Linked DNA regions of Homo sapiens: region 2 is linked to region 1. The links come from fine-mapping of genetic effects on gene expression. A gene starts in region 1. The other region holds a variant in brackets. All regions are shown on one strand. Distances are between the middles of the regions.

Region 1 (12,057 bases):
ATGGGAAACTTTAAAAGATACCATTTATAATATTGAAATATAGATTAGAAACAACCTAACAAAATATGTACAAGACACCCATTAGGATGACAATTATTAATTTTTTAAAAGAAAAGGAAACAAATATTGGTGAGGATGTGGAGAAATTCGAACCCTTTTGTATTGGAATGTAAAAGGGTGTAGCCACCATGGAAAACAGTATGATGGTCCCTAAAAAAATTAAAAATAGGAGTACCATTTGATCCAACAATCTAATTCTGGGTACATACACAAAAGAATTGAAAGCAGGAGCTCAAACAGATTTGTACACCCATGTTCACAGCAGCATTGTTCACAATAGACAAAAGGTGGAAGCAACACAAATGTCCATGGATGGATGAATGGATAAAGAAAGTGTGGTGTATACATACAATGGAATATAGATCAGCCTTAAAAATGAATAAAATTATAATACATGTTACAGTATGAATGAACCTTGAAAACATTCTGCTAAGTGAAATACCAAATCACAAAAGGACATGTATGATTACACTTATATGAGGTACCTAGTCAAATTCATAGACACAGAAAGTAGAATGGTGGTTACCAGGGACTGAGGGAGGAGGAAAAGGGGAGTTATTATGTAGTAGGTACAGAATTTCAGCTTGGGAAAATGAAATCGTTCCGGAGATGGATGGTAGTGAGGGTTGCACAATGATGTGAATTACTTAATGCCACTGAACTGTGCACTTAACAATGGTTAAGATGTTAAATTTTGTGTTGTGTATATATTACATTTTAAAAAATGGTTTAAAAATATGCACAAGACCTATGTGTAAAATAATGATAAAACATACAGAAATATATGAAGAAAGAAAAGTAAATGTAGAGCTATCTCATGGTCATGAATAAAAGTTGTCAGTTCTCCATATTGATCTGTAGATTCAACACAACTCTAGTCAAAATCCAAAAGGTATTTTTTATAAAATTATTTTTGGCAAGAAGATTCTAAAATGTATATTGAAGGACAAAGGGCATAAATACCTAAGAAAATTCTGAAGAATAATAAGAATGATGTGCCCTGCAAATTATCAAACTTTATTATAAAGTTATATGAATTAATGAGAATATGCCAACATAGAAATAGCTAATAGAAAGCCCAGAAATATATCCATGCAAATTTAAAGTTTTGATATCTGAGAGGGGAGTGGCATGATAGGTCAGTAAATGGAAAAATAAATTAAAATTAGATTCATCATATCATAAACAAAAATTCCAGCCCTATTAAGGCCTTAAATTTCAAGAACAACACTTTTAATAGAAAATATAAGGGAATCTATTTCTGACTTTCAGGTGAGGAAGGATTTCCTAATCAAGACACAAAAACTATGCTGTTTTGTGCTAACCACAAAATTTTAAATTTATAAATTTGACTACAGGTATATAAGAATGTGTAAATTGTAGTATATTTATACAGTGAAATACAATATAGCAATATTAAACTTGCCAAATTTAGCAATATAGCAGTTTTAAGCAGACAAAACTTAAAAATGAAAATCTTAAAGTGGAAAAAAACTGGACACAACTGGAAGGAGATATTTGCACACACACACACACGCACACACACACCTATATCTGAAAAAGGACTAGGATCAAGACTATGTAAAGAGTATGTACAGAACCACAAATCAAGCCAAGCACAGTGGGTCACACCTGTAATCCCAGTACTTTGGGAGGCCAAGGTGGGTGGATCACCTGAGGTCAGGAGTTCAAGACCAGCCTGGCCAATGTGGTGAAACCCGGTCTCCAGTAAAAAAAAAATACAAAAATTAGCCAGGCATGATGGTGCACACCTGTAATCCCAGCTACTCGGGAGGCTGTGGTAGGAGAATCACCTGAACCCAGGAGGCAGAGGCTGCAGTGAGCTGAGATCTGGCCACTGCACTCCCACCTGGGCAACAGAGCAAGACTCCATCTCAAAAACAAACAAACAAAAAAAAAACCCACACAAATCAGGGCCAGGCACGGTGGCTCACGCCTGTAATCCCAGCACTTTGGGAGGTCGAGGTGGGTGGAATCACCTGAGGTCAGGAGTTCGACACCAGACTGGCCAACATGGTGAAACCCAGTCTCTACTAAAAATACAAAAATTAGCCAGGCGTGGTGGCACACGTCTGTAATCCCAGTTACTCGGGAGGCCGAGGCAGGAGAACTGCTTGAAGGAGGCAGAGGTTGCAGTGAGCTGAGGTGGTGCCACTGCACTCCAGCCTGGGTGACAGAGCGACTCTGTCTAAAAAAAAAAAAAAGAAAAGAAAAGAAAAATGGGCCAAAGACCTGAACAGGTATTTTACGAAGAGGAAACTCGTGTGGCCTACAAACATGTGAAGATGCTCAACCTCTTTAATAATGAGGGAAATGCAAATCAAGACCATGGTAGGATATTTATACTCATTTGATTGACAAAACTTTAGAAGTTTTTTGTTTTTTGAGACAGTTTTGCTCTTGTTGCCTGGGCTGGAGTGCAATGGCACAATCTCAGCTCACCGCAACCTTCACCCCCTGGGTTCAAGCAATTCTCCTGCCTCAGCCTCCCAAGTAGCTGGGATTACAGGCGCGCACCACCACACCCGGCTAATTTTGTATTTTTAGTAGAGACTGGGTAGGACGGGTTTTCTCCATGTTGGTCAGGCTGGTCTTAAACTCCCAACCTCAGGTGATCTGCCCACCTCGGCCTCCCACAGTGCTGGGATTACAGGTGTGAGCCATCATGTCTGGCCAAATTGAGAAGTTTGATAACACCAAGTGGTGGAGAAAACTATCTTGCATACATTCCTGGCAGAATTATTCATAGACCCACTTTGGAAAACAATTTGGCATTGTCTTATAAAGTTGAATACCTGTATACCTTATGACCCAGCAATGCTACCCCCAGGTATATACTCTAGGGAGCCATTTGTACATATGATCCAGGAAATAAGTACCAAAATGTTCATGACACTTTTCAACTGTGAAAAAAGAGCCCAAATGCACATCAATGAAAGAATGCCTAAATTGTAGTAGATTTATATAGTGGAATACAATATAGCAATGAAAATGAAGAAGCTTCAGCTCCATCCATCAACCTGTATGAGTCTCAAAAACAGGATGTTCAGTGAAAAAAGTAAGCCTCAGAAAACTGATGCTCTTTTTATAAAGTTTGGAAACAAGCAAGACTAAAGAAATAATTTCAGTATGTCATGCAATAAAACTATAGATTTTTTTTAACAGCAAGGATGAAATTCAGGAAACCATCTCTGAGGGGAGACAGAGGAATGATGTCAAGGAAGAGGTGGACTGAAATCATTAGAAATGTTCTGGTGCTTTGGGTGGGTGATGGATTCACACGTGTCTGTTTTTATTTTGAAAAAATATTGTGCCCAAGGACCCTCTCCTGAAACATCCACTCCTGCTCTTCCTGCAGGGCCCCCTCCCCTCTGCTGGAGACTGATAAAGGCAGCAGTCCCCCACTGTGGTGGGGGTATCCCCTGTTTAGTGTAGTGAACTTCTGCCTGCTACTACTTGCTCTTAGTATTTTCCACAGCCAAAACTCATCTTCACATTGATCATGTTAATGGCTACGGAATCTTTGTTAAGGTGCTGTTTACTTCATGGTAGCTACTGGGCACCAAGGCTGTTTCTCACTGCTTCCTCACTACCCCAGACAACTTTTCTGTACACATTATGGTGCAGAAGGCTGTCTTTCTTCCCTGGGCTAAGGTCCAAGAAGTAGGATTGTTTATATGGCTCTTATAACATAGGCTCGTAATGTCCTCCGGAAAGAGCAACCCATTTCAGAGTCCACAACAGTTCACGAGGTGTCCATTTCCTTACAGTCCCACCAGCAGCATTGGGTCTTATAATTTGTATTGCTTTTCGGTCATTTCGTAGTATGATGAGAACCCTTGTCTCTGTTCTTGTGATTTTTTTTTTTTAATTTTGTGGGAGGCTGATCACCCACATTGTCAGGCCAGGTGTCCTTGAAGGGGACATTCTTCCATGTATTCTCACATTTCCTACGCTCTGGTCCTTCGTCTCACGGGAACTTGCTCCCTAAGCACTGCAGAAGACACTGAGGCATATTGTAATGATTAGCGGAGGCCTCCTTTCTAAGTTCTTCCTCTCATTTCTGCCAAGATCCCTGCACATTCCCAGCATTCTGGGAAAGTTTCTTCAGAGAATTCTTTAGAGGACGGGCCTTGGCTGGGACACCAGGGGCCCTTGCCTGGCTGGGGATGGCACTGTGGTGGGCCTAGAGGGCAGGGATCTGTGGGGAGGCCGAGCTGCATTCGCCAAATCTATCCCTCTTAGGCCGGCCCTGGAGGAGTGACCCAGCCTGGCCCCCAGCCCCCATGGGGTCCTCACCTGGGCATGTCACCAAGCTGCCCCACTAGCCCTAGCCAAGGCTAGGGCCACTTTCAGAAGCCACCATGAGCCCCTCGCTCTACTATCGGACAGGGCGGACAGGGATGGAGAAGAGCTGTCTGCTTGAGGAGGAGTCCCCTTTCCCTCTTGGGCCCCTAGTTTTCTACCAGTCACACGAGGGGGATGCCTCCTTCTCAGACTGCGACTGCTGTTCCATAATCCAGGGAAGAGGTCTCCAGCTCATCGTCTACGGGACAAATCCAGCCTGCAGACACATTTCCCTTGGCTAGCCCATTTGGTGCCTCACTGTGTCTTGGAATGTGATTTAACTGCCAAAAGTTGATTTCACATAAATGCAGCATTTTCTTTTTGAAGTTTGGCCAATGGGACAGCATTCCCATCTGGCAACAATTAGCAAATCTGAGCAGGGGCCCCTCCTTTAGACTGAGAGTCTGCTCTGTTTTTTGTTATTATTGTTGTTGTTGTTGTTTGTTTGTGAGACAGAATCTCGGTCTGTCACCCAGGCTGGAATGTAGTGGTGTGATCTCGGCTTACTGCACCCTCTGCTTCCTGGGTTCAAGTGATTCTACTGGCTCAGCCTCCCGAGTAGCTGGTACTACAGGTGCAAGCCACCACGCCTGGCTAATTTTTGTATTTTTAGTAGAGATGGGGTTTCACCATGTTGGCCAGGCTGGTCTCGAACTCCTGACCTCAAGTGATCTTCCCGCCTCGGCCTCCCAAAGTGCTGGGATTACAGGCGTGAGCCACTGCACCCGGCTCCTGCTACTTCTGATGTGTGCATGCAGGAGGCCCAGCAGAGCCCAGCACCATTTCCCCATTTCACTTGTCTTTGCCTCCTGCCTGGCCCTGAGTTCGGGATCCCTTATCTCAGCAGAATTTGGAGGTGCATAAGAGGCAGGGAACACAGAGGGAGAGCATGCTTAGATGTGTGTGTGCTGGGAGGTGGGGGAGGCTGCATAAGCGCCCCCCGGAGAGATCTATGCCTAATCCTCAGAACTCGTAAATATGTTTCCTTACATGGCAAGGGGGGTTAAAGTTACAGATGAAGTTAAGGTTACTACTTAGCTGACTTTAAAATAGATTATCCTGGATTGTCAGGTAGGTCCCATTAATCCCAGGATCCTTAAATGCATAAGACCCAAAGAAATGCAGCGTGATAAAGATTTGGGCAGCCGTCGGTGGCTTTGAAGATGCAAGGGGTCCCAGAGCCAAGGAATGCAGGAGGCTCTAGAAGCTGGAAAAGGCAAGGAAGGAAATGAGCTCTGCCCTAGAGCCTCCAGAAAGGAAGGCAATCCTTCTGAGACCTTGATCTTAGCCTGCTGAGGCCCATTTGTTCTTCTGACCTCCAAAACCATAAGGTAATAAGTCTCTGCTGTTTCAAGCCACTAAGTGTGGGCATTTGTTATAGCAGCAATAGGAAACCAATACAGGATGTATGTGTGTAAGGCTGGAGAGGGTGGAGGTGGATAAAGGAGACTTTCCAGGGAGGGAGAGCCTCCGCTGTCCTCTCAGAGATGTGGCTTCTGGACCAGAGCCATCTGTACCAGCCTCCCTCTGCAGGGACCGCTTCAGCATCCCCCAGCACCACCTGATACCCCAATACCCTGGAGCACTCACTCCCTCTACTCATCCCAAAGGTCCTCTGCCAGGTGGACAGGCCCCAGGCAATTGGCTCTCAATGTGCCAAAGAGGTAACTGAGGCCTGGGAGAAGCATAGCCAGGAGGAGCACTCCACCTGCCGCAGGAGATGGCCAGACGCCACACCTGAGAACTCACGCTTTCTGGGAGGGCAGCCCGCTCCTTCCACAGATTCCCCACAGCCAAACAGGCCCAGGCAGGCTCCTGTCCACACCTGTGCTGAGAACGCGGCCGCAAAATTGCCAGGGGTCATCATAATTTCTACTCTCCACACCCTCCCGGCCCTGCCTCCCTGTAGGCAGGACCGCAAGCCAAAGCCAGGGCCCACCTGACCACAATCCAGGCCCAGCCAGACCCTTGGAAGCAGAACCTTTGAGCTCCACTGGTGTCCAGGAAGTAGTGTCACAATGGGGTGGGGAGGTCCTTGGGGTGAGCTGGGAATGGTGAGGGTCAGCATTCTACTCCAGGGACACAACTGGCTGTAGCCTCCAGGGGCAAGGCAGGTCAGGAAAACTGCCACACGAACCCCCCTGCCCCTGTCTTTGTGCAGGCTGTTTCCTCCACACGAGGGCTCCACCTCCACTCTCGGAAATTCTCCTGTCCTTCCAGATATCACTCATTTATCAACTATCCTTCAAGCCTTCCTGAGCCCACAGCTGGAAATGGCTTGGCCCTACCCCACTCACTTCTGCTCTGTCTCTCCGTGACACTCCCCTGCCAACCAGCCTTGGTCAGAGCTGCCGGGGTCTGACCCATCTCCCCCATAAGCTAGAAGCCTCCTCTGCCAGATTGCAGGAACAGGGCTTCAAGCTTCATGCTTGGGGGAAGGGAGGCCAAAGTGGCAGGACAGGAAAACCAGCACAGGGCCTAGTACAAGGCAGACCATCCTTGTACCAGTACAGCATGTACTTAGGACCTCAACAAAATTAGAGCATTGCTATGGCTTAATATTTGTCCTCTCCAAAACTCATGTTGAAACTTCATCTCCAGTGTGGTAGCGTGATGGGGCCTTTAAGATGTAATTGGGTCATGAGTGTAATCTGTTAATCCATGAATCACCAATCATGGATTAGTAGATTAATGGGTTAATGAGTTATGAGAATGGGACTGGTGACTTTATAACAAGAGGAAGAAAGACAAGCTAGCTTGCTCGGTTCCCTCACCTGTGCCCCCTTGGGAGACTGCAGAGTTCCCAACAGCAAGAAGGCCCTTACCAGATGTATTCCCTAAACCTTGGACTTCCCAGCCTCCAGAACTGTAAGAAATAAATTTCTTTTCTTTATAAATAACTCAGTTTCAAGCAGTCTGTTATAAGCAACAGAAAATGGACTAACACAGACACTTAAGACACAAAAAAAAATTAAAAGAATTTCATATATTTGAAAAAAAATGAAGTATTGATCACAGGGAAACCTACTTACAGCTCTTTTGCAGTTTCCTATGGCTCAATCTTCACTTGTTTGGGGGCAGGGCACTGCAATCTTATTGGTATCTGGGGCATCAGATCCTTCCTCTTTCACCAGACCTCCCTCGGGGTGTCTGCAGGTCACCTCAGTGGTTGGTCCTAGGCCCCTCATCCCCCCTAGAGTTCCCCACTCTTGAGCAGCAGCACTCTGGGGGTCAAAGGGACCAAGCAGACAGCACAGTGAGCACCCAGAAGCCATCAGTGAGACTGAAGAGCAGGGTGGGAGCACCCCTTTGTTTTGGTTTGTTTTGGTTACATAAGATCCCAGAACTCGGCTGGGCATGGTGGCTCACGCCTGTAATCCCAGCACTTTGGGAGGCTGAGGCAGACGGATCACCTGAGGTCAGGAGTTCAAGACCAGCCTGGCCAACATGGCAAAACCCTGTCTCTACTAAAAATACAAAAATTAGCCTGGCGCAGTGGCGCACACCTGTAATCCCAGTTACTCGGGAAGCTGAGGCAAGAGAATCGCTTGAACCCAGGAGGCAGAAGTTGCGGTGAGCAGAGAATTGCACCACTGCACTCCAGCCTGGGTGACAAACTGAGACTCCTTTTCAAAAAAAAAAAAAAAGATCCCAGAACTCTCTGGGTTGAGAAGAGCCCCAATAACAGCTGAGATGAATTTCCAATCAGCTCAGCAAGATGGAGGCTCATAGGCTAAAGAAACATTCTGTTGCCTGCAGATATGAGTTTACAGAACAAATATTCATACCAGCTACAAATGTTGATTGCCTTTGTTAAAAATTTAGGAGGTCATTTTTGTTTCCCTTGGTTACAGGTTGAGAAAACTAGTAAATATGAGGGTCAGATTGTTTCTAGGCAGAAAGGGGCTTGCTGTTCAATGTGCTAGAAGCCAATATGATGACACCGGGTTTTTGAGAAAAGAAAAGCTTGTAATTATAGGCCGGCCGACACGGAGACAGGAGTCCAGCTTGAATCTGTCTCCCTGGGCTGGTGCTAAGGCAGTGTTTTTATTAGAAAAGGTGTCGGGATTCTGAGATTAGCAGGTGATTAGTGGAAGGAAAGAGGAGGCCTGGAAAGTCCTCCAGCATGCGCAGTTCTCTTCATGACACCTCATAGATCACATGGGCAGGTACGGGGGGAGTGAGTATGAAACACGCAGTGGAAATTCAGGCTGTGATGTCAGCAAGCAGGTACTGCACAGACTCTAGTTGGCCACATTGGTTCCAACCTATTTTAGCCAGCTTTGTTGTCTTACAAGTGGAGGGACTTTCAGCATCTCAGCAAGTTGTTTCTTTGCTTACCTACCATCCTGCAAACTCAAGAATTTCTGTTAGTCATTGGTGTCTTTAACTGTTTGGGGCACAGTTTCGCTTTCACACACCTGGACTAAATGTTTAGGACTGATAGTCACCATTGCCGTAACCTTTGAGGAGCAAAATCAAGGAGATACACAACCAGGGTCCAGTGAAGCTGCATATCTTCTCCTTCAGAGTCCCAGAGGCCTCAGCAGCCAACCTCCCATCAGTGACTGCTAAAGGACACTTACCCATTCATCAGAGCAAACCACAGGACACTTTTAAATACACACAGAAAAAAAAAAAAATCTTTCTCCCCAACCAACCATAATCCCCCCAAAAAGGAAAGAAAAAGTCTCCAGGGACCAGGCATGGTGGCTCATGCCTGTAATCCCAATACTTTGGGAGGCCGAGGTGGGCGGATCACGAGTTCAGGAGTTTGAGACCAGCCTGGCCAACTTGGCAAAACCCCATCTCTACCAAAAATACAAAAATTAGCCAGTCTTGGCCATTCAGGTCTCTTCCTGGGAATGACAATCATTCCGTCTTAAAGGGAGCAAGTGTCCATATCTTAGAGGAGGAAACTGCCTTTAGCTGGGAAATGGCCCTTTCCCCACTTCTATCTGGTTTTCCGCACCCCTTGGCAGTTTCAGCCTGAGAGACACATTGTGCCCAGAAAGACTTGCTAGTATTCCCCAAGAGGATGCCATGAATGGGCACACAGTAGGAAGCTAAATAGAGCTTTTGTCTAGCACTTCAAAGCTGAGAATCGTGAGTGAGGAATATCCATGTGTTTGGAAGACAGGTGCTGAACACTTCCATGCTGGGTTTACAGGAAACTGGTCCAGCATCTACGCCCAACCCCGAACCAGCCATGCAGGAGAAGGTGAGCAAGCTGGGGTGCCTGTGAGAAGAGAGACTGAAACCTTCTCCCTAGTGGGAGGTTAGCTGGGGCAAGGCAGGGGCAGTGGCCAGGCAAGCTCTTTTTCTATCTACCATTTGGTGACACAATGATATATGGTGTTCTTGCAGGCTAAGGAGGTGCTGAGGAAGGCAGTCCGGCTTGAGGTCTCTTTATGGGCGCCCATCTAAGAAGGCCATCTTTTTTTTTTTTTTTTTTTTTTGAGATAGAGTCTCTTTCTGTTGCCCAGGTTGAAGTGCAGTGGTGCGATCTTGGCTCACTGCAAACTCCGCCTCCCAGGTTCAAGCGATTCTCCTGCCTCAGCCTCCCAAGTAGCTGGGATTACAGGCATGCACCACCATATAGGGCTAATTTTTGTATTTTTAGTAGAGACAGGGTTTTGCCATGCCAGCCAGGCTGGTCTCAAATTCCTGACCTCAGGTAATCCGCCCGCCTCAGCCTCCCAAAGTGCTGGGATTACAGGCATGAACCACCACGCCCAGCCAAGAAGGCCATCTTGGTTGGGTCAGGGGCTGCCAGCTGTAGGACAGGTTGTAGGAGCAATGCTGGGTGGGGCTGGAGAAGGGTCCCAAGAGGAGCTGGGAGTGCATTGGGAGCATATTGCTCATTCTAAGGAACAATACCAAGGCCTGAGAAGATCTCTGAGAAGCCCAAGAAGATGGCCCGTGGAAAAGGCAGCTTTCAGAAGCCTGACAAAACACACCAACTGGCATTAGCCAATGTGCACCAGAAAGAACTGCAACCAGCAGCAGCTCGGTGAAAAGACCTCTACCCTTTCCCTCACCCTGCATGGGCCCTGGAAGGTCCAGAAGCAGCTGAGCATGAGCAGGAGGAGGCGGGGTGAGGCGGGGAGCAGAACAAACCTCCTTTCCTTCCCCAAGCTGGTCCCTGAGCCACACATAGGTTAGGCATGAGCTGAGTGTAGGGCGGGGGTTGGGCCATCTTTGAAGTGAACACAAGGTGGAAGTTTTGATTTAGGCTGAACTGAATCTTCTCTCTGTATGACCCAGTGACCTATGGGGCCATACGTTAGCCAGAGGAATCTGGTCCATCCGCTAGAAGGAATCATAACCTTCCTTTTATCCACAGCATTTTCATCCACCTGCCTGGGTAGAGTCCACAACTTCACATTTGTTTCCTCTCCCCTCCTGTTCCCACAAATTGGAAAGGGCTTACCTTGTGTTCTGTTCTGAACATCACTGTGTTTTGAGGGCAGGGGACTCCAGATTGAGGAGATCAAGAGAGCCATACCCCATGAAGATTGTTAGAGGACAAGTTAATTCCAAGACATACCCAAGATCCTAACCCAGACAGAGTATTGGGGGCAGGGCTCTGGAGATGAGAAAGGTGAAGGAGGCCGGGAGGTCCTGTCTCAGATGGTGGTTCCCAGTCTGGGATTGGACTCGGCAGGAGGTGACAGCCATGGGCCAGATTGTGGTGTCCTGCCTCCATAAGCAAGGCTGGTCTTGCCCTGTGTCCCTGTGGGTCCTGGCCATATCCAAGGAGGTGTTTAGGCAGCTCCCTGCTGCTGATGGTCCAGCTCTTAGAGACCTCAATCAGAAGTATGTGCTGCTCACAAAGGCCACTCCCGGGCTGGAAGTTCTTCCCTTGGCCTCTGTTTCCTTCTCTGAGGGCACTGATTTGGGGGACCTAGAGGGAGCAGAAGGCTGTCATTGGCTGCCCAGGAATTGGTCCCATGACAGTGTCCTCACCACCTCCCTCCTCAAAGTAAGGGGAATCTGAACTAAAGCCAGCCAGATGTCTGTGGTTCTGGAGGACCCCATATTAGCCTCTAGGCAACAGTGGACGAGTGATGAGGTGGAGGCCTGGGCATATAGAGTGCGTGGCCAATGTGAGACCCAAGTCGTGGTTTCAGTGCAAGCAAGCAGCTCACCGTGGGTGAGGCCCCAGCTCCAGGTCCTGGAGGGTGTCTTTCAGGCCCTGGCCATGCGTCTCTGGCAGCAGGGTGCACAGCAGGCCGGCCACGATGGGGAGGCTGCCGTAGATGAGCATGGGGAGGGCAGCGTGGTACTCTCCCAGCAGGATCACAAGTGGTGTGAGGATGCCCCCGATCCGTGAGAAGATGCCCACCAGCCCCATGCCTGTCTGCCTGGGGGAAGACCAGGGCAAGCTAAGTAGACCTGGGCCCAACTCTGGGCCTCAGCTTCACCCTAGTATATTTCCTCGGGAGAGTCCAGACCTCAAAGGTCTGCAGGGTCTCCAGCCTCACCCAGCCCAGCCAGCGTTCCTGCTCTCTGCTCCTGCCTCCAACCCTGCTCCCTGCCTGCTACACCCCTGCTCGCCTGTCAAGTCTCAGGTCAGAGGCTGCACATCCTTACCACTCTTCCACCCCAAGTGCTCCTTCTCTGTGG
Region 2 (12,057 bases), 31 kb before region 1:
TCCTGTTCCCTATGGCACTAGGTGATTCCTGGCAAAGTAACTTGAGGAGAGGTGTTTAAATAAGGCTAATATGTTGGCATCACAGCTCACACACAGGCCTCTGCCAGAAAGAGCAACAGAGACTTTTCGAGCATCCTGTGGTCCTATGAACAGACACTTTGTGAGATCACTTTCTGGCCCTTCAAACCCCACTTTGGAGACCCTCCTAGGAAACTCAGTCAAGAACAGTAGGCACAGAAAATGACACTGAAAGGGAAAGGCATGGACACCAGCTTCTTGGTGTCCCAAAGCTTGGGAGCACATGCGCAAAGCAGTGTGCTGGGCCAGAGTGCTGGGAATGCTGGAGGCCACTCCCTGCTTCACTGGACTCCAACCTGCCTGGGAGATCCATGGCCTTGCTGCCCTGGCTCCATGAGAACTGACTTGCTTATCTGTCTTCCTCCCTCAGAGGCTATGAGGAGTCGAACCAGAGCTATTCTCTGCAAGCCCATGATCTTCCAATAAACTAGGCAAGCGTGGAGGAGGTAAGACAGGGAGAGAGGAGGTAGTGCCGAAGGCCTGACCCAAGGACTTCACAGTCTGGTTGAGGAGTCCTGGGCCCTGCCTGGCAGAACCCCCATGCCAGCTGGGAAGGGCAGAATCACCTTCAGGGCAGTTAGGGTGTGAGCTGGGGTATGGGGGCTTATCCTCAGAGTGGTGGAGGCCAGAGGTCAGCTAGGGTGGAGTCATCAGGAAAGCATCCCCAGGGATGTGGACCGATTTGGGTAATTCCCAAGACCATGTTTATTTGCAGCATCAGCAGAAAGATGGTGAGAAAGCCCTATGCAATGGGACAAATGAGAGAAGTTCTCAATGTTCCTTTACATTCCATCCCTGCCCTGACTAGTGCATAAAATGGAGCTTTGAAATCTGTCCTCAGCCTGTGCTTCAGGTGGAAACTCGCCATGCTGGCGGATGCATGGGCTAGTGGGTATGGTTGGTGTGCAGGCACAGTCTTGCCCTCACTTCACCTCTGGCCCTCATAGACATTGCCCTCCCCACTCCCCTGCCCCCATCCAGAGAGCTCCTCACTGTCCCTGAACGATTAGACAAAGACACTAAGGAGTCTGTCTAACCCATCTTCCTCCAGGCCAGGGCCTCTGCATTCTCCACACATGGGCAACTTTGACCCAGCCATCTCAAGACCAACATTGTACCTTTATTGGAATGAATCACAGCAGAGCTCCTGCAGAAGGAGGGGGCATTTTTTTTAATGTCAAGGGCTGGCCTGGGAGAAGGACTGACCCTGCCCCCAGACTGAACTAGGCCTGGAATTTGTGGCCTGGAATCCATGACCCCATACTTGGCCACTCAATTCCAACCCAAGATGGTCTGGGGGCCTGGCCCTCAGGGAGCCTGGCTGTTTGCTTCCTCTTTATTGAATTGCTTCAAGGCAGGGTTGGAGACAGGGTATGGGTCCAATCTCAGGATCTGGGCATTGAGAATGACATTCTTGGCCGCTTCCTCAGACATCATCAGATGATGTTTCCTTAGTCTTCATGTCCTTGACCTTATTCCTGAAAGAGCCATCAGAGGATGAGTCCAGGGCCACATCTTTCTGGAAGCTGAGAAAAGCAGCGGCTTGTGCCTTCAGCAGCGCCCAACCCTGCGTTCCCAAGAGGTGAGGCTTTCTCACTCCGGCAGGTCCCCAGCCGAGCTTTGCCAGGAGCCTCCAGAATCAGGCCTGCTCCATCTCCCAACCCTTGCGAGACCCTTCTCTTTTCTGTCTTTGAAGTTGGTCCACCATCTTCACTGCTAGCATTTACTGAGCACTTGCCACATGCCAGACCCTGTGCCAGCTGCTTTATGTAGGTTTAATCCTCTCAAAAAAACCCATGGGAGAGGATGGCTGGGCTACATGGCCTTACCTCTCTGTGCCCCAATGTTCTCACCTGTAAAATGGGGATAGTGACAGAACCTACCTTGCATTTGATTGTTTTGAGGATAGAGCGAGATAAGGCATGTGTAGAACAGGGTCTAACACATAACAAATGCTCAATTCATCTTAGCTATTGTTATTACTCTGTTCTCATTCCACTTTGCAAATGAAGAAACTGAGTCTCAGAGGTATGAGGTAACTTCTCCGTGCACACACTAGGAAGTTGCGGCACATGGAACCTGTGCCCATAACCATTATCCTCTCTTCCCGTGCGGCGCTGAACTTCCTCTCTCTACAGTGGGGCAAGTTTCTATCCATCCTTCAAAGCCCTACTCAGTTGTCACTGTGACATTTTCTCCAACTCCCCAAATTAACGTTCTTCCCTTGTTAGGTTCCTACAGATCCTGTATATCCCACTGTCAGAGTCCTCTAGCAGGAACTGTTTGCATCATCTGTCTCCGCATAAGCTATGGTTTTCTCAAGGATGGGGAGTGCTGACCTCTGACCTTTGACAGTCAAGCCCTGGCACAGTGCCTAGCATGTGTGGTTCCAGTGAGAGCAGGGAGGGAGGGCAGGGGGAAGATGGTAGGGAGGAGGGCAGAGAAAGGCCAGAGGCAGTGACTGCTGTGGCACAGAGCAGAGGACACTCTAGGGCCTCGGGCAACCTCTGCTCCTCACTGGCGCTCAGGTCCCCTCAGGTCCAGGGAGAGCGTGTTCATTGGCCGAAAACCCAGAAGGAATGGTCCTGCCAATCATGACAAGTCTTCTCCAGGGGACACCTGGGAGATCAGAGGCCGGAAGTGCCCATGGAGGTGTTGGGTGGAACCCAGTTCCCAAATGGGGTCCTGGGCTGCTGGGGCCAAGAGGCCAGAGTCCTTCATCAAGACTGGGTTTTTTATGAAAACCAGGACTGAACTAGGAGTTCAGACAGGAAAAGAGATGTACTCAGAGTCAGTTCCAAGCCAGTCCCCTGTCCCTGGGAGGAGAGGGAGCCTCTGGGAGGAGTGCCCCTGGAGGGTATGCCCAAAGGCAATGCACCCATCCAGACAGGCAGGCAGGGGCAAGGAAAGGAGACGACATGGCCCAGTCCGGGTCAGGAGGGGCAGCAGGATGGGAACTGGCAGAGGCTGGGTGGGAGCAGGTAGACAGCAGCAGCCAGAGGAGCGGAGAGACTGCTGCGGACATGGCAGCCTTCGAGTCACAGGCTCTCCGGCAGAGGGGCGGGGATGGACAATGTCCCGCACGCTCTCTGTGCCAAGGCTTCAGAGCCAGGCCCCGTGCTGGCACAGCCCAGGAGGCTCCCACACCTACCTTATCTGTGAGGAGTGGTTCAGGCTCTCGGAGAGGGGCTGATCTCGCGTTTCCGGCAGCAGGGAGGAGAGGGAAAAGGCCACGATGGCTAAGACGCAGCAGAGAAAGATGGGCAGGAGGGAGGGGGTCTGGCTGATGATTGTCAGGGACAAGATGGCTCCAGCCACCGAGGCCAGAGACACCAGCCCCAGACCTGTCGCCCTGAAAGTGGAGGTGAGAGCTCCTGTGAGGGGTCTGCCGGGTTCAGAGGCTGGGCAGGGCCAGCAGCTACATGAAAACCCACACTCTCCAGTCTCCACCCTGTCCCATCCTCATTGTGTGATTCCAAGTAGGCAATAATTTCTTCTGGGCCTCCTTCAAGGGGGATGAGGAGGGGGAGAGGCAGAAACCATGCAGCATTATGTGGATGTGCGGGGAGAGGACACAGGCAGTGATGCCAGCCAGGCAGGAAGATAGTGCTCCCATCGCCAACCTCAGGGAAGGATCTGAGCCTCCAAGTGGCCCAAACACTTTCCAGGCAGTGAGTGCAAGGCAGGGGCTGGAGTCAGGCTGCCTGGGGCCAAATCCCAGCTCTGCTGCTTGCTCTGTCTGCCCTTAATCGAGTGCCTTTATCTGTCTGGTCTTGCATCTGAAATAGGGTTAGTGATGGCATTTGGGGGATTTTCTGGTGGTGTTTAAATGAGATCACTTATGTAAACTGTTTAGCACAGTGCTTGTCACCAGGTGAATGCTTGTCTTAGTTGCTGCATTAATCTTGTCATTGTCACTCCCTGCGCATGTCCCCATGGCCCCCTCGCCCACCAGACCCCATACCTGAGCACAGTGGGGAGGAGCTCAGCGGTGTAGAGGAAGAACACAGTGACAGTGGCGGCCAGGCTGAACTCTCTGAGCATGAGCACCAAGATCGTCATGGATTTCAGCTCTGTGGCCGGACAACGTGGCCACTTGAGTCTGAGGCCATCCTCCCCTGGGGTGGGTGAAGGAGTTCCACTCATCAGCCCTCCCTTGACCCCTCCCAGAAGGCATCTGAACAGCCTTCCCCACCACCTGCCCAGCTGGCCAGCAGGCTCAGGCATTCTGTCAGAGGAGTGGCAGGTTGTCAGAGGCCCAGCCAGGCTGGAAGGCAGGACATTTGCAGTGCAGAGTTAGTCAGCAGGGGTGGGGAGGTCCCCTGGGACACCCATGGCCTCTCAGGCCACTGTCTCCCATGCTACACCCAACACCCCCTTCTCTGCCTCCAAGGCTGTGTCTTCGTTCCACCTCCTCACCCAATTGCAGCTTCCTCACCCCACTGGGGATCCACTCAGGGCCAGGCCTGTGTCCTGTGGGTTGGGACCCCTGCTCAGGGCTGTACCACCGGGGCTCTGCAAGGTGGTCAGAGCAAGGGGGTGTTTGGTTCCTGGGGCCTGAATGGCTGGGATGGCTCCCAAACATTCCAGGATGTTCTCCGGCCAGCTAGACAGGCACAATGAAGGGGAAACTGGGGAAAGCCCATTCCTCAGACCTGGTGAAGCTGGGGGCTTCAGCCCCTGCCTGCCTGCCTGTCAGCCTCTGCAGGACCCTGCCCCGGCCTTACTCCCATTCCAGTCCTGGCTTTTCTTGTCTCTGGGATGAAATCAGAGATCCAGTTTTATCTACCGGGGAGTCCATTCCTAGTTTCTCTCACACTTCTGAGTTTACATATTGCTGCTTGACTCAGTGTAGACCTGCTTTTTTAAAAACCACCAGGCAATTAATATTCAATAATGAATTTGTTTCCACATTTTGTGTTAGCCAATCTACACTGCCAGCATCTGGGAGTGGAAGGGTCCTAATCCAGACACACACAATTCCAGCCCTGGAGAAAGGGAGGGAGCCCCTCCAGGCAGGGCCGGATCTAGCCTCCCCTGCCCTTGCTGCGACTGTGAAAGGGCTCCGCAGGCAGTCATTCTAAGTGCATGTGCTGCACAGATCGCTCCAGCTCTAGGACCTGTGGTGTATCCACTGTTTAGGGCTCTTTGAGATTCTGAAGATAACACCAGCCCTTCCTGTTTCCTTTTCTAGTGCTAAGCCAGCAGGAATGGGGCACTGAGCCCCTCTGGAAAGGAGGGGCCTCCATGCAAGAGCTGTTCCTGAGTGCTGAGCCCCATATTACACTCAATTTTTCAGTGGTCAGGTTATTCCTGGTGAAGCTACAGGGAACAACAGGCATTTCCCAGTCAAAGGGGCTACAGATGACAGGTGGGCCTGGGCAGCAGTTGAAGGAATATTTTTGCCATCATTTATTCACATGTAACCATTAGACCTACTTCTAAGGTGGATTGGAATCTGGTGGAAGAAGGCTGCCTGCTGTCCTCTGGAAAGTACACCCTCCTCTTTCAGGCCTCTGAGAGAGTGTGGGTGCCCTGTCTGGGGGACCCCACCCAGGAAGAGCAGTGCTCCAGGGATTGGAGGTGCTGGGGCCTCTGTGGGGTGGGTGGGCTATAGGTGCAGAAGGCTGATTCCCAGGGTGTCTAGGTGGCCGGCCGTGGCAGGCGGCACTGGGGAGGGGTTTTGGGAAGCAGGAAGGCTGTGGGCAGGCCACAGGGGAAGGATGAGCTGTACCTTCAGGGAGGAAAAGGAGAAGCAAGCACCAGATGATGGCTTGGAGGAGAGTCACAGCCAGGCTCCACTTCCTCCCAATCTGCTGGAGGAGAAAGATGCAGCACAGCCGGGCAGGCACCTCCATGATGCTGGGGACCACGTGTCTGAAGTGGACGCTCACGCCCAGCTCTCTCATTCTCAGGCTCAACGTAAAATAGGTGTAACTGA[C/T]GGTAAACCTGGATGAAGCCAGGAGGCAAGTGCGCGTGCACACGCGCGCACACACACGGAGCCAGGAATAAAGACAGAGGCAGAGCAGCAAGGGTCAGGGTAGGAACGGAGGAGAGAAATAAGCACAGAGACCTGTGATCTGTGTCCTTGGGCTGCCTCCCCTGCAGCCTGACCATTCCCATCCTCTCCCTAGAGTTTCCAGCCTGCGCACCTGTTCGCAGTCCCTGCCAGCGAGCCCTGGATACTCACCACACACAGCTCATCACCAAGGTCACCTTGCAGAGCTGCCTATTCTTACAGAAGTCCAGGACAGAGGCCCGAGTCACCTTCTTTCTGGGCAGCTGCAGCTACAGAACAAGCAGGACCAGTCAGAGGCAGGGCCAAGACCCCAGCTTGCTCCCCAGCCCCACAGCACCCACAAGGCCTGCCTGTCCCTGAAAGTGCCAGCTGGCTTCTGGCCTTCCCTGGCAGGGTTCAATTTTGCTGTCACCATTGTCCTTAAGCAGTGGACTGGGGGCACCCTCTGGACCAATGTCCCACCTGAAAGGATGAGGAGGGAAGGGGCCCTTCCACAGCCCACTGCTCCGGCCCCACTCCTGGCCAGAAGCCCTTTACCTCGTCCAGCAGATTTGAAGGAATGGTCTTCTTGTTCACACTTGCGGCGTAGCACAGCACCTGCTTGGCCTCCTTCACCTTCCCTTTCATCATCAGCCACCGCGGGGACTCCGGGAGAATCCTGCGTGGCCAGCCCCTCTCTTATCTCACCGTTCTATGATGCCCAGAGACCCCCTGCTGGCCCTCTCGTGGCCTCAGCTGTGGCCATCCTGTGCCAGCATGAGGTGATTCAGATGTCAGGGCCTTGAAGGCCACCACTGACCTCGAGCTGCCCTCTGCTCCTCCCTGGTGGTCAGCCCTTCCCCTGTCTAAGCCTCACATGGCCTCCACTGCTGCTAGGTAACACCCTGACCACCGGCTGCCTCTGTCTCCAGTCTCCTTGATTTGCCCTCAGTAATCACTGAGAGCTCTCTCCTTTTCTATCTAGGGGGCCACCCCTATCTGCTCAGGCATGCTGAGGGCTCCGACCTCCATGCCCACAGCCTCCTGTAGAGCCCCCATGCCCTTAGTTGGGATTTCTCCTGTTCCCTATCTGTCTCCCCAACAGCCTGAGGAGTGTGAGGGGGCAGGACCCTGGGTCTGACCCCAGTGCCCAGCACTCTGCCTGGGTGAATGGAGGGGTGAGTGAAGGTCTCTACTCTGTCCCATCTCTCCCCCGCCACATCTCTATTGCCTTTGACTTCAGAATAACTCCTCTCTGTTTTTTCCCATCCTCTCAGGCTGTCAGAATCCACACAGATTGGCATAAAAAGCACGTATGTGTGAAAAATGGTGCTTGGTGCCCTTGTATATATAGTCTTGTTTAATCCTCATCCAAACCTGGACCTAGTATGATTATCCCCATTTTACTCCCAGGCTCAAGGAGTAAAAGGCTTGCCCGAGGACACAGAGGCAGAGCTATGTACTTGGGGACTGGTACAGCCTCAGTCCCCTAAGGTGGTATAACTTTTTAATAAAACTGTGCCTGCTGATTTCTTATACCAGCACTCCCTCCCCGACCAGGACTCTGGCTGGTTGCCATAAACACACACTCAAGACACTAGAGACAACTTCATTCCTTATACCTGCCCTGCTCCTCCTCTCTCCCACCAGGGTTCAGCAATCAGTCATCATTTTCCACTCTAAGGCTGTGGAACTCTCCTAAAGAAAGCCATTAAACTGAGACTTCTTCAAAAAGATGGGGGATTGGCCTCATGTCCACTGAAAAAACAGGAATAAGAAAAGGATACCAACTCTCAGGGACAAAGAGAATGGGAGGGAGGACACAATGGGAGAAATGTAACAAATGCATTGAAGAGGTCATGAACAGAATGTTGACGTAAATATGGACAATAAAGACATTCTGATGAGGTCTCAGATGCAAATGAGGAACTATTAGAAACTGGAGAAATGGCAATCCTTGCTACAAAATGGCAAAGAGCTTGGCTGAACTGTATTCATGCCTTAGTGTTTGTGAAAGAAGGAACTTGTAAGTGATGAAATAGGACATTTGGCAGAAGAAGTCCCTAAGCAAAGTGTTGAGGGTGTGGTATGGCTTCTCTTGACTACTTATAGTAAAATGTGAGAAGAGAGAAACAAATTAGAATTTATAATTAAAAGGGAAGCAGAACTTAAAGATTTGTCAAATGCTCATGTTGGCCATGCTGTTTATTCATTTTCCATGAATAACAAAGTGTGTTTGGGAGAGAACACCAAGGATGTGGCCAAGCTACTGTTTGATAAGGAGGCCAGTACAAATCAGCGGAAGCCAGGCACTATCCTTGAGGACACTAAAAGAATAACCCCAAAGATACATTAGAGATCATTGGTACTGCCCCTTCCATCACAGGCCCAGACTGCCAAAGCCTAGGGGACACAACTAGGTCAAAAGAGGGACCTTCAGCACCCATAGTACATTGGTGCTCACTGCTAACAGCCTACCAATAGAGGCTGGGAATCCAGTTCATGGAAGTGACAGGGTCTTGAATCTCTCCTCCTCACTCCCCATACAACTCTCATCTACTCGAGCTAGGCAAAGGGGAGTTCAAGAGAACTCCTTAGATAGATGCGGGGACTGCCTTTGAAAAAGGACATCTGCCATCCCACTCTGGCTGGAACTTGCTAATTCAGAAACATGGGGGCTTGTCCTGGTATTCCAGACAGTGAGAGAGATTATAGGAGAGTTAATATGTGCCACCTGGAGTTTGAGGGCCTACATAAACCCGGAGAATGATGCCCATCTCTCATCTGGGTATAATGAAGGCAGGAGGTTGATTGGAGCAGCCCACCACAACAGGGTGGAGGCTGGGGAACAGTGGGGTTTTTTGGCCAAGTGGACCCTGCTGTCTTAAAGGCACCCCATGTGCTAGGATGAGGAGACCCCTACAGAAAGAGGTTATGGGGTGAACTGCCAGGGACAGGAGCTGAGGGAGGTCACAAACAGAGCACTGGGAGCATTAGGAAATTCCAATGCTCAGAAGACCCACGAATGGACCTGAGAGTGATGGTATTTGAATATCTACCCTACAGAGGACCCTGAGAGACTATAATAGCCCCTGCCATGTCAGTCTTTGGTCTATTTTATCTGATGTCCCTATCCCATGCCTAGAACCTGGAAAATCAGAACAAGGAGACAGGAGGAAGAACAATAGGTCAGAACAGACCTCATCCCCCTTGGCCACTATCCTGAGCGAGGGGCCAGGAAAAAGCTGTGGATCTGATGTAAGATTAAAGTTTTTAATTGAACTGGACTGAAATTTTTTTTAAACAGGATCTCACTCTTTTGCCCAGGCTGGAGTGCAGTAATACAATCATAACTCACTGCAGCCATGATCTCCTGGGCTCAAGTGATCCTCCCACCTCAGCCTCCCAAGTAGCTGGGACTACAAGTGTGTGCCACCATGCCTGGCTAACTTTAAAATTTTGTGTAGAGGCAGGGTCTTGCGATGTTGCCCAGGCTGGTCCCAAACTCCTAGCCTCAAGCGCTCCTCCCACCCCAGCCTCCCAAAGTGTTGGGATTACAGGCATGAGCCACTGCGCCCAGCCCCCATGCTGTTAACCCCATCTTTTATCATTCTTACTACATATGGTACAGTTAAAATGCAGAGGCTTTGGAGACAGCCCCTGAGTTCAAATCCCAGGTGCCCCACTTTCTAGCTGTGTGCTGTTAGACAAGTTATTTCCACCCTCTGAAGCCTCAGTTCTCCCTCCTCCCCACCTCCCATGACATGGGAATAGCATACTTCTTCTAGAGGGGTCAAGATTAAATGTAATAATTTCAAGATTAAATATGATCATTGCTTCATGCAGAACTGCCTAACCCTTCACACGTGGGTTCCTTCAGCTTCTTCTCACCTCCCTCTCTGCCTTCTGTTTTGTCCCTCTCTTTTCCCACCTGCCCAAGGTTAACCTTCTTTCTTTTGGCATCTCACTTTTGTTCTCAACCCTTATTCCTCCGAGTTTTGCCCCATCAGTTGTCCTCTCCCAGCTTTAATCTCTTAGGTTCCTGTCTGTGACTCCCCTACACTCAAAACATCTGATACTCTTCCCTGACTCTGTCTTAGTTGCCCATATAAATCATCCCTTTCTCCCTCTTTCTAAGAAAGTCATCTCCTGGCTGAATTTCTTCTGCTCCTAGTCACTCCTCAACCCTCTGCCACTGCAGTGAAGCCACCTCAAGAAGGTCACCAAGGCTGGCAGACCCTTTCCCAGCATCACCCCTCTTACCTTCAACACTGACCCTTCCCTTGGCCTTAACCCCTTGGCCTTCAACACTCTTCCTCCTGGTTTTCTGACCACCTCTCTAACATCTCTTTGAGGGTCTTCTCTGGGTCGGGGAGGAGGTTAATGCTGAGGTTCAGAGGCTCTGCCCTTGGTGCCTTCCTATCTCATCCCATCCACATGCACTTTCTCCCAGGGGAAATCCCACCCATTCCCACAGCTTCAAGGACCCTCCATACTCATCGACATCCAGCCCATCAGACCCAGCCCTGTACATGCCCGGTACTCGCTTGCTCACCAGATATAGGAGATGAAGGGGATCACAAGTATCCCACCCACCAGAAACAGCAGCTGCCAGTGGGGAAGACTGTAGGCGATCCCTGTCAGCAACACGGCCCCAACAGCGAAAAAGCAGTGTCCCAGGATAATGGCATGGGCCCGGTGCTCACCCACTAACCACTCAGTGGCTGTGCAGAGGCCAAGAGGACAAAACCATGGTTACGTCAGGGTCCCCAGGGCTGCCCTTGCATCCAGCCTTGCTGGGTGTCCCCACCTGCTCTGGACAGTTGAGATCAGGCAAAGCTTCTTCTGCTCGTCTCTGCACTGGGTCCAGAGACAGCCCCTCAGAGCCCGGTAGAGTGCCTCTGTTCCCGCCAGGGGACACCCTTATCTCCTAATCATATACACAGCTTCCATCCCGCTCCACCTGGCTGCTCCCTCTGCACATCCCCTGTCTGACCACGTGCCTCTTATAGAAAAGACGCAATACCAGACACGTGGCCTGACACATGGTCAGGCAAGGAATCATTGTCCTTGTTTTTGCTCTGAGTGTATTCGTGCTTTGGCCACCTAGGCCTAAGGCTCCCAATGAGAAGAGGTTCTCCTGCCAGGAAACCCCGAGCAACTAGGCAGCTGCAGCTATAAGGCTGCACTGGGTGCTTTAGTGTCTCATAGGCCTGGGTTGAAGTCCCAGCTTTTTCACTTAGTTGCCGTGTGGCCCTGTGCAAGTTGGTTAACTTCTCTGAGGCTAAAGAGTCCTCCTCAGCTGAAGGAGTAATAGAATAGTGCCTGCTGAAGACAGCTGCATCAGGAGGAAATGAGACAATGCATATAAAGGGCTCAGCAGCTGCCTGGCTTTTTCTTCTCCTTCTCCTTCTTCTTCTTCTTCTCCTCCTCCTCCTCTGCCACCACCACCTCCTCCTCTTCCTCCTTCTTTCTTTTTCTTTCCTCCTCCTCCTCCTCCTTCTTTCTTCTTCTTTCCTCCTCCTCCTCCTTCTTCTTCTGTTTTTTGTTGTTTTTTCTTTTGCCTGGCCTTTCTTAAGGGCTCAGTAAATGTAACCCATGGGGCTTGGGGGTATGCAAAGAGTATGCGGTGGAAGGTGTGGTGTATGAGGGAGTTAGGAAGGAGGATGAAGGTGGAAGGGCAGTCAGGGCACTGATTCTCTGACATCTCCAGGCAGCCAGGAACGGAGATCCCTTCCACTTCTGCCTGTCCAATTAGGCCCCTGACTCTGTGTCCTGTGGGATCCCAGCAGATGCCCACGCTGCCACACCCCCGCCATGCCCTCTTACAGCTACACCACGCCCCCTTGCCATCTGCCTATGCCGCCACGCCCCCTGCCACTATGTCCCCTTGTCACCCGCCTATGCCGCCATGCCCCTGTGCCACCCTGCCCTGCCCCATTGAGGCCCAGTCTCACCCAAAGAAATGCTGCTGATGGCGT

The links. PIP is the estimated chance that this variant, and not a neighbour inherited with it, causes the effect.
Region 2: its variant is fine-mapped to the expression of SLC22A14 in cerebral cortex (GTEx, PIP above 0.99). The same link has a PIP of 0.9 or more in prefrontal cortex.

Annotation. Positions count from the first base shown.
Region 1 is chr3:38,276,650-38,288,706 of GRCh38, reverse strand. SLC22A14 (solute carrier family 22 member 14) reads right to left here and starts at 6,413. Exons shown (of 11, transcript NM_001320033.2): 1 at 6,368-6,413. It overlaps SLC22A13 (solute carrier family 22 member 13), which reads right to left. Exons shown (of 10, transcript NM_004256.4): 9 at 11,580-11,795; 10 at 9,950-11,335. The coding sequence ends at 11,242.
Region 2 is chr3:38,307,697-38,319,753 of GRCh38, reverse strand. SLC22A14 (solute carrier family 22 member 14) reads right to left here. Exons shown (of 11, transcript NM_001320033.2): 4 at 12,034-12,057; 5 at 10,632-10,800; 6 at 6,635-6,755; 7 at 6,269-6,366; 8 at 5,813-6,027; 9 at 4,043-4,196; 10 at 3,230-3,430; 11 at 1,179-1,556. The coding sequence ends at 1,505. Among named protein-coding and RNA genes, the nearest start is that of SLC22A14, 31 kb to the right of the region's middle. RefSeq lists an enhancer at 2,670-3,206. The variant C/T (reference allele first, on the strand shown) is at 6,020.